Linked DNA regions of Homo sapiens. The protein of the gene in region 3 purifies or fractionates together with the protein of the main gene of each other region. This does not show direct contact. Each region holds a gene or a part of one and is shown on either strand. Other genes may lie near its edges.

Region 1 (3,656 bases), on a different chromosome or scaffold from region 3:
TGGGCAGCAGAGTGAGATCCTGTCTCTAAAAGAAAAAAAAAAGAGAAAAAAGGACCTATGTGTTCAAGAATTATATGTGATGTTGACATGTTCAAAATTCCTTTTGAAATATCCTATAGACTGTTCTGTTATATGATTTATATATATCCTTAATGATAAGCAACTTATACATGTTGAAATCATAATAGCATTGTTGGAAACTTCCAGGAGTGCTTTTTAGCAAGTATGACAAATAGTCAAAATGAATAAGATCATTTCAAATATGAAAAGAGGTAACACAAAAATAATAAGACCAGTTTATTTTTGTACTTAATGAATTGGCTATTAACAGCTACTCAAGAGTCTGAGGTAGGTAGGAGGAGGTAGGAAGACAGCTTGAGACCAGGAGTTAGAGTCCAGCCTGGGCAACATAATGAGACCCCATCTTTCAAGCAAATAAATAAAATATTTTAAAAAATAAATAAATAAAATTATCCCATCCCCTTTGATATTCTAGTTCAAAATTTCAAGTAGTGATTTTTGCATATAAATATGTATTTTTTTATTTATACCATTACAGTACATGTATTAATATAGCTTTCTTACTTTTATCATTTTGAAAGAAACTTATAGATACAATGCATTCCTTTTGTACATCCAAAAGGACCTGGATAGTGAGAAAGAAGCAGACTGAATTGAGAGGAATTATATATAAAGTAATAAAAGGAGCAAATTTTTAAAAATGTAGATGGTTCTGTCCTAACAGGATTCCCTCCTGCTCTTGTATAACAGAACCATTCACATTAACCACTAAATATTTAGTACTTAAGGAAGTTGAGGAAGCTCAGAAGGGAAGTTGTTCTATAAATTTAGAAGACTGACTGACAGGAAAATTGTAGAGTGAGCTATGATGCGTTCTTGAGTAAAATTCCATGGAGAATTTCCATTCTTTATTTTGCTTCATTATTTTTATACTGTCTTTCATATATACAAATGATGCTCTTGGAATTGTTTTTCTCCTGGTGATACTATTGACTCAGCCTCAGTGGAGAGAATTCAGTCCTATGTCTGCTTAGGTATAAAAAGCAAACGATGTTTTCAGTTCTAAACTAGTTTAATAACACATTTGGCAAGTTCTGTTTCTTCAGATATTAGACATTTATTGAGTGCTCTTTTGTTTCAGTCTCAAATGATATGATATTTACATAGCAGGTAAATTGAGATGATTCTCTGTCCTAAATTTATGGGGGGTTTTTTTATGCAGAAAAAAGTCACGTTAAATGGTTTCTTGGACACGCTTATGTCAGATCCTCCCCCGCAGTGTCTGGTCTGGTTGCCTCTTCTGCATCGACTAGCAAATGTGGAAAATGGTGAGTAGTTACTAAGGAGCAAAGGTGATTTTTTAAATTATTGAAATTAGGCCATTAGTTCTACAGTTAGTAAGCCCAGGCTGTTGTTTTAGGGAAGCCTATTTAGTGGCTCTTAGTTTTGTTTAGGGTAGAACTAACCCATCTCCCTGTTCGGGAAGGCCTTAAAGGACCACTGAAAAATTAGGACTGTCAGTTCCAAAAATAAATCTCATGGTCTTCTTCTCAATTACAAGTCAGGTGTGGTTAAAAGACTTGGCACGATAGAAGGCGAACTTCAACAAGGAGTGTGACATTATTTTGTATTTGTTTTAGATCCGAATTTCTCATATTTGCATACACGGTACTGATTATTTCTTCCCAGGCACTCAGCCAGAAATAGGTGGGAGAAATGAGAAAAAAAAATAGATGATAGCACCCTGTTAATCTTTAGTCATATGTTCCAGATTGTGAGCTTTCAATAGTTGTACTTACGTTAAAGATAAGAGTAAAATAACTTTCGTATCATGTCTTTTTTTAAAGCAAGTATTTCTAGGATAAAAGGAACTACTGTTGGCATATCCAGATTTAAATATGAAATACCATTTGGGGCAAAATTTACAGAAAATTAAACATGGAGCAGTTCAGTGCCTCCATCTAATCTTTAGGTGTTCCTACTTATTGTTCAATGTAACTCTGAAATTTCTCCAGACTTGACGAGGAAATAATTTAGTCTCTATCTCTTACTGAGATTTAACTTAAGTCTCTATATATTACTCAACTTCTGTGTATTTCTTTAATATACATTGCAGCTAAAGTTAGCTTAATTTTAAATTATCATTCAGAATTTTTAGCATCTGCCCTTATTTATCTGTTAGTTAGAAGTTATGAATTTATCCTGTTTTTCTCATGGAGAAAATTTAAAGAATGAATTTATTTTATTTTTTTGCAATCACTAACAATCATAGTTTTTTTATGTTTATCCATATGCAGAAGCGAAGAGCAATCAAGGTCCATGTTATTATGCAAAATGAGTTCACGTTACTGTTTACAGTTCTAGAACTAGTCATTTTCCAATCATAAAGCTATAATTTCTTTCGTTCTCTCTCAGCATTTCCTGCTGCAGGAGATCAGTTTCTTAGGCACCATCCCAGAACAGTTGTCCCTAGATTGAAGTCCCACTCTAGTCTTTCTCAAGAGCCGGGAAGAAAGGTTATGACACTTGTTTAGAAGACAATGCGTCCAGAGCTAGTTATGTCTTTGTTTTTACACTTTGCTTTTTATCTTCATTTATTATTATTTTCATTGTTTTTCCTGACTGGTTAGGCCGGAGAATAGCTTTACCAAAGGCAAGAATTGTTATTGTTGTTTTAGTATCTAGCTCATAGCATGTAGACAATTACTTGGATTTGATCACTTAAATCTAATATTTTACTTTGCTTCAAATCTAGTATTTTGCTTTGCCTGCTTTATAATTCAAATTTCCTACCAAAGAAAGTTAACCGTCTCTTGAGGCATTTGAATTATTTAGAACTGTTTTCAGATAATTTGCACATCTTTTTTAGGGCCCTATACACCTGCCTCAGGAAAGAAAAAAAAATCTGTTTGTCAGATGTAGGCAACACCACTCGTTAAGTAAGCCATTAGTCACTCTATTTTTTAAAAAATAACTTAATTATCTCATCCACACCAGTTTTCCATTCTCTGCCCATCTTCCTTTCTTTTTTCTTCCTCTCATTCTCCGTGTCTCTGATATTCGCTCTCTTCCCACTGGACAATCAGCATTCACCCCTTGTGCTTCTGAGTCTTCCAGTGAGCTGTGCTGGTCTCCTGGAGACAGAGAGCAGTTTGGGGTAAAGGCAAGTCTGTTTGGCTAATTTAAATTCTTGTAATGTGAGAGATGGGAATAGAAAGAGCAAATGGCATTACAGAGATTTTTGTTGTTAAAAGGACACCTCTTCTCCATCCCATTTCATTTCATTTCCCCACAGGCATGATTGAAAAGGGTTGTAAGATTCCAGGAATGAACTAAATGTTTCTCTGAGCCCAAATCAACTATCATCTGAAATCGTGGTGCAGAGAAGAAAGGTGCAATTCCTGTAAGGCTGTATTTTTCCTTCTTCTGGTTCATACTTTTGTTTTCTTGGTTTTTCTTCACTTACTTCCCCCTTAGTCTTCCATCCGGTTGAGTGTTCCTACTGCCACAGTGAGAGTATGATGGGATTTCGCTACCGATGCCAACAGTGTCACAATTACCAGCTCTGTCAGGACTGCTTCTGGAGGGGACATGCCGGTGGTTCTCATAGCAACCAGCACCAAATGAAAGAGTAC
Region 2 (3,656 bases), on a different chromosome or scaffold from region 3:
CTCTGTGGCATTCTTAACCTTTACAATTACCAGTGCTAGAGCCTTCTCAGACAATGCTTGAAAGTGACATCAGAAGACAATATATAAATTTTAGGTAATAAGTGTGTGAAGCAATAGGAGAACTATTCCCACCAATCTTAGTTCCCACTTCCTGGAGCTGCCTCAATCAATACTCCCCATGTATGGGGTTTGGTGGCCTTGCCAACTCAGCTTGTGGAAAGACGGAAGAGGCTTTCCAAGTTGCTGAGTTACAGCAATCTCTACTTCAGGTCAAAGAAGAAACTAGAGGGCACCAAGATGAAAAAAAGTACTGATTACCTCTTGGGCTGACCCCAACTCTGCCCTAGAGCCCTCAACTGGTATAGGGAAAGAAGTGAAGTGGGTTTTTTAATTTTTTGTTGTTTTTGTCCTCAGCCCTAGAAAATGCTACAGACTTTTACAACACCTTTTAAAATAAGTAAAGTCTTTTACAGACTATAAGTATATGATGTGTCTATATTATGATAAGTATATAATGTGTCTATATTATGCCGTATGTTTCTTTAGATTATTGACCAGTCTCTGACAAAAATAATCCCTTTCCCCCATACAAAATGAATCAGTCCTCAGTTGCGTGTTGAAGTTTATGCATTATAGATTTAAATATATAACATCTAATTCCTTGAATTGTAATACACACATACAAATACTTGTGACTTTTGAAATTTATTATTTGTTTTCCTTATGTCATCAGTGTACCTTGAGTACCATTACAATGTGAGACTACTTGATACAAAGTTTTCACATTCTGAGTTGAAAGAAAGAAAACTAAAGGTGAAAAATCACATGGTCATATATGCGACTATATTAGACCAGCATTTATTCAAAACATTTTATTTCTAAGTAAAGAAAATTAAGATATTGTTCTTGCAGCCTAAAGGAACAAAATACCCATTGAAAATGTTTAAAGCCATTTTCCAGTCCATATTTTAGTATTATTTGATCGTATTTAAATTAACATGCATATATGACATATTTTAGAAATTATTTGATGGTAACTTAGCACATGATTTTTATTAATATCCTGATATTTCTCCTATTAATATTGAGCATTTAGGTTTCAGAAATGAAGCAGGAGTTATTAGATAGGAATTAGTGTACATTTAAATCAAAATATTTTCATGTAGTTGTGTGTTAATATTTTCAGATTTGCTGTTATCTCAGTCACAAATACACATCTGTATTCCTTTATGGATCAGTTAACATTATAAATGATAACTTTAGCTCATTTCTCTAATGTTTTAATTTCTAGAACTACACTAAAAAAGCCAAAAGAATACTTTCACAGTAATTCATGACTTGTCTGACATGATGAAGTACCACACTCCCCCATCTTTCTACAGGTGCCCCTAAAAATGTGTTCTTTACAACTAGATGGGAGGAAACTTATTTTGAAACCTCAAGTACCAAATGTAAAAGAAAGGCTATGAGCACAGTATCTTATAATAGCATTCCATGAAAGTTTTAAATTGGATTTTTGTGTGTGTTTAAATAACATGTCTTATTATCTCTGTTAACAATGTACAGCTTTTTAAAAACCAAAATGAAGACTGTACTTGTTGTTTTTGATCAGAATGAAGACAATGAGGGTACTGTAAAAGAATTGTTGCAAAGAGGAGACAACTTACAACAAAGAATCACAGATGAGAGAAAGCGAGAGGAAATAAAGATAAAACAGCAGCTGTTACAGACAAAACATAATGCTCTCAAGGTATTAGAGCTAAAATTATAATATACCTTGCCTGTGGTTTTTTTTTAATATATAGGGTAAAATATAATGTGCATTAATAAAATCTGCTTCAGACTTAGTCATCAGAAACTCACTTTTTCTGTTCAATGTGTATGCTTTATTTAACATTTTTGAGTGGTATTTGATTTTGAACGATGTGTTGCTTAAAAGTTATGGCTTTTTAAAGACATATTTTTCTAAGTAGTAATTGAAAGATGGGAATGCATTCATAGTACTTATACATTTAATTTTCTAATGTGCTTTATTTTTATCAGCTACTTTATATTGAAAAAAACCTGCCTAACTGCCAGAATAACCGATCTACATGTATCCATTATTCCTGCTTTCTTTACTTAATTGATTTTGCTTGCATTAGGTCCAATTTTTTGGTAACCTGATACTTGTTTAATAAGCCCTAGATTCTTTTATTTATTTTTAAAACTTTATTATGCCTTTAAGAAAGTCACTCTTTGCAACTATCTACAAAGTCAAATTTCATTTATGTAGGAATCCTAAAAAATAATCTTAGTGCCCTTGAATAAGAACTGCTACTTTCATATTAAGCAGTGTAGTGTATGGCTTCAAGTCCCCAGGTGACTCATCTGGTTTGTGCAGGAAGAGCAGGATAAACTTAATTTTTCTATAATAATATCTAGGAAGTTCTTGAGACTAGACATGTGGAAAGTTTTGTGAAACTTTTTTTTTGTATATGCTTTGCAATAATCACTATTTGCATGCATGGCTGATTTTCTAATACTTTTAATTGCTGAGCTTTTCCTTGTAAATCACTCTTTTGAGCTATGTAGTTATGAAGGTGGATCCACCTAGCAGGTAGATGGAGTCTGCTTTCTACATGCAAATAAGAGAATAAAACCTTTCCCCCTATAGTCAACCAAATAAACACTGCTGAGAATGTAATTACACAATATTGTGCCTGCAAGGAATCCACAAGGAAAGTCTAATTGGCCAGCAGGTGTTCTGAAGGTAACTGCTGATAAATATAGTAAACAGAAAAGGCCTCTTCCTCGAGGGAGTGCAAAAGCACACCATAATGTGTCTAGAAAATCGGAACGCTATGTAACTCACACCCTTCCAACTGTGAGCAAGCTTTCAGAAGTATCTACACTGGTCGTATGATGGTGTGTGTCCTACTGAATAGCAGTGTTTAATGGTCATCTGGCATTCCTCTAAAGAAATCTACATGACATCTCTAAATATTTTACATATTATACATCACTTTGTGCTTAGGAAATGAAAGATGTTTCAGATTGATGACCACCAAGCCCTTTCTCCTGGCAAAGATGTGAGTTATGTCACAAATAAGGCATGGCTCAACTCTAATTCACGTGGCTGTATCTTGCTACCTTTGAAAAAAGCAGCGTTCGATCTGACTCCTCAGAAGGTTTGAAAATTCAACATAAAACATAAAGTACAGCAAGGTTTAAATTCCCAATTTTAAACAAACTAGATAATGAAATGTAGTTCATTCTTGCAAATACAGGCTATAAGTGATTAATCAAAATCGTCAACACTACTCGCCAAACCAATCTATACCAACATATTCAATAACTTTTTAAACCTGTCAAATAGTTCCAATTCTGGTCCTTATGAAATATTTTAGAGAAGGTCAAAATTTTCCAATGGAATGAAATTTTTAGAAATTCCCTGATATTTATTATTTTTTCGCTCGAATTAAACCTGTGAATAAAACCCTAATTGCTACTTTCTGTAGAAATGAAAGCTGCATGCAGAGCTTATGTTCCCATGAATTATAAAATGGCATTTTGAGTAATTCTATTAATCACAGAAGATATTGAGTGTGCTTGTAAAGAGCATGATGACTGATTTCCTCCCATTGTTGATTTATTAAATTAGTCTTATCACATTG
Region 3 (3,163 bases):
AAATACAAAAGTTAGCTGGATGTGGTGGCGGGCACCTATAATCCCAGCTGCTCAGGAAGCTGAGGCAGGAGAATCGCTTGAACCCAGGAGGCGGAGATGGCAGTGAGCTGAAATCGCACCATTGCATTCCAGCCTAGGTGACGAGAGGAAGATTCTGTCTAAAAAAGAAAAAAAGAAAGAAAAGAAAAAAAGAAAATGTGCTACCCTTAGGGAGTGGTGGTCTCAGGGTGGGGTTGATGGTTGAGTGCCCCTGGCTACGTTATTGTTATTGCTGCCGCCATTGTGCCCTTAGAAGGGGCAGTGCTGTGGATATAGCAGGGATGGGACATGGGTCTTCCTGGGGCACAAGGAGGCCTCTGGTGCCAAGGTGGCGAGGCAGTGGCAGGATGTCTTGCGGGAGGGTGTCCAGGGTGGGTTTGAGGGACAGCCTGGGGCCAGGGGCTGTGGCCGGAAGGGGAGTCCGCTGGAGGAGGCTGGGAGGTGAGGTCCGAGGGGTCAGGAGCTTCCCTGTGCAGGTCCTGCATGTCCTGGGGGGCCTCTGGCATTGAGCAGGGGAGGGATAGGCACCGACTCAGCTTCCACAGGCCCTCTGTGGCTGCCATGGAGACTGGGGGGCCATGGGCAGAGGCAGAGAGGCTGGCAAGTTGTGCCCCGAACTGGCTGGGCAGGCACTGTTAGATTCAGGCCTTGAGGGTGGGAGAAGGGGTCGGATCCTAAATAGACTCTTCAGAGCCCTCAGTGTGGGAGTGAGGTGTGGAGCTGAGGTTTTTGGCTGGAGCTGCTGGGGGCCCGAAGGGGGTGGCCATTCGCACTGGGAAGGCGGAGTGGGGAGCTGGCTTGGGCAAGACCAGAGCACGATCGTGGGTCAATCAGGGTGGAAGCGTCCTCCAGTCACGTCTGGGGGCCCTGGGATGGGGGTAGAGGAGCCCGGAGCCACCAGCCCAGCCAGACATGCTGTCGTCTCTGTTGCAGGAGCCGCCCTGCCTGGAGCTAGCCTGGGGGCGAGCCAGGGTCCCCCAACCCCCGGGATGACCGCGGCCAGCCGGGCCAACCCCTACAGCATCGTGTCATCGGAGGAGGACGGGCTGCACCTGGTCACCATGTCGGGCGCCAACGGCTTCGGCAACGGCAAGGTGCACACGCGGCGCAGGTGCCGCAACCGCTTCGTCAAGAAGAATGGCCAGTGCAACATTGAGTTCGCCAACATGGACGAGAAGTCACAGCGCTACCTGGCTGACATGTTCACCACCTGTGTGGACATCCGCTGGCGGTACATGCTGCTCATCTTCTCGCTGGCCTTCCTTGCCTCCTGGCTGCTGTTCGGCATCATCTTCTGGGTCATCGCGGTGGCACACGGTGACCTGGAGCCGGCTGAGGGCCGGGGCCGCACACCCTGTGTGATGCAGGTGCACGGCTTCATGGCGGCCTTCCTCTTCTCCATCGAGACGCAGACCACCATCGGCTACGGGCTGCGCTGTGTGACGGAGGAGTGCCCGGTGGCCGTCTTCATGGTGGTGGCCCAGTCCATCGTGGGCTGCATCATCGACTCCTTCATGATTGGTGCCATCATGGCCAAGATGGCAAGGCCCAAGAAGCGGGCACAGACGCTGCTGTTCAGCCACAACGCCGTGGTGGCCCTGCGTGACGGCAAGCTCTGCCTCATGTGGCGTGTGGGTAACCTGCGCAAGAGCCACATTGTGGAGGCCCATGTGCGCGCGCAGCTCATCAAGCCGCGGGTCACCGAGGAGGGCGAGTACATCCCGCTGGACCAGATCGACATCGATGTGGGCTTCGACAAGGGCCTGGACCGCATCTTTCTGGTGTCGCCCATCACCATCTTGCATGAGATTGACGAGGCCAGCCCGCTCTTCGGCATCAGCCGGCAGGACCTGGAGACGGACGACTTTGAGATCGTGGTCATCCTGGAAGGCATGGTGGAGGCCACAGCCATGACCACCCAGGCCCGCAGCTCCTACCTGGCCAATGAGATCCTGTGGGGTCACCGCTTTGAGCCCGTGCTCTTCGAGGAGAAGAACCAGTACAAGATTGACTACTCGCACTTCCACAAGACCTATGAGGTGCCCTCTACGCCCCGCTGCAGTGCGAAGGATCTGGTAGAGAACAAGTTCCTGCTGCCCAGCGCCAACTCCTTCTGCTACGAGAACGAGCTGGCCTTCCTGAGCCGTGACGAGGAGGATGAGGCGGACGGAGACCAGGACGGCCGAAGCCGGGACGGCCTCAGCCCCCAGGCCAGGCATGACTTTGACAGACTCCAGGCTGGCGGCGGGGTCCTGGAGCAGCGGCCCTACAGACGGGAGTCAGAGATCTGAGCCAACCTTGGCCGACATGCAGCATCCACCCCCGGCTGGGGAGAGGCCCCGCGGTCGCTCAGGGGCCCCGGGTTTGAGCAGAACGGGCCCAGTGCCCTGGGTTGCAGACTCAGTAGCGTTTTAGTCGTTTTATGTTTCTTTGCAACGGCCTCAGAAGTTTGGCCGGAGAGGGGGCAGCCAGAGCGGCAGCCCCCGGCCTCAGAGGCTATCACAGGCTCAGGGCAAAGAAGTGGCCTCCTGGGGGGCCAGGCCACGAGGGCCAGGGCTTCTGCCTGAAGATGGAGCTGCAGCCTGCGGGGAAGCAGCTCAGCTCGATGGTGGGCCCAGCCTCTGCTGTCCAAGGCTGGCTAGCTGCGGTGCTCCTTGCTGGTTTTTAACTTGGGGAGAAACACCGGGTTTCAGCTTTCTTGACCTTAGCTTGGGTGAGACTGTTTACAAAAAAAAAAAATTACCATGCAATTGAAAAAATTTTTTTTTAATTCACAGGGGGCAAAAAGAACAATTAGAATTCCATGGGTCTGCCAGGATGCAGCAGCTGGCTGAAGGCTCCAGAGGGTTCCCCGAGGTGGGACTGGCCTCTCCCCGTGTGTGTGGGCACCACAGTCCCTGGGCAAGCAGGGTGCTCTGGGACCGCACTTCATCGAGCTCACGAGCCAGCTAGGCTCTGTTTGTGATAGAAAAATCAAGACCATGTTAATGATCGTAATAAAAGCTTTCTACTGTCGTTGGGGTGGTGGGTGGGGCTGGGAAGAAACTGGTTTGAGCTTTTAGAGTTTGCCTTTGTACCTTAGAGATGTGTCTCAGGGCCAGGCATGGGACCTGCCATCGAGGGT

What was found.
Region 1: the proteins of KCNJ12 (region 3) and DTNA purify together in Homo sapiens (affinity purification with mass spectrometry, with the first as the bait; one study listed by BioGRID). This does not show direct contact.
Region 2: the proteins of KCNJ12 (region 3) and DMD purify together in Homo sapiens (affinity purification with mass spectrometry, with the first as the bait; one study listed by BioGRID). This does not show direct contact.

The regions. Positions count from the first base shown.
Region 1 is NC_000018.10:34,814,666-34,818,321, forward strand, and holds part of DTNA (dystrobrevin alpha), read left to right. Parts: intron 1-1,243; coding exon 1,244-1,349; intron 1,350-3,296; exon of another isoform or gene 3,297-3,498; coding exon 3,499-3,656. UniProt on the Homo sapiens protein: May be involved in the formation and stability of synapses as well as being involved in the clustering of nicotinic acetylcholine receptors.
Region 2 is NC_000023.11:32,344,037-32,347,692, reverse strand, and holds part of DMD (dystrophin), read left to right. Parts: intron 1-1,612; coding exon 1,613-1,750; intron 1,751-3,656. UniProt on the Homo sapiens protein: Anchors the extracellular matrix to the cytoskeleton via F-actin. Ligand for dystroglycan.
Region 3 is NC_000017.11:21,414,315-21,417,477, forward strand, and holds part of KCNJ12 (ATP-sensitive inward rectifier potassium channel 12), read left to right. Parts: intron 1-972; 5' UTR 973-1,028; coding exon 1,029-2,330; 3' UTR 2,331-3,163. UniProt on the Homo sapiens protein: Inward rectifying potassium channel that probably participates in controlling the resting membrane potential in electrically excitable cells. Probably participates in establishing action potential waveform and excitability of neuronal and muscle tissues.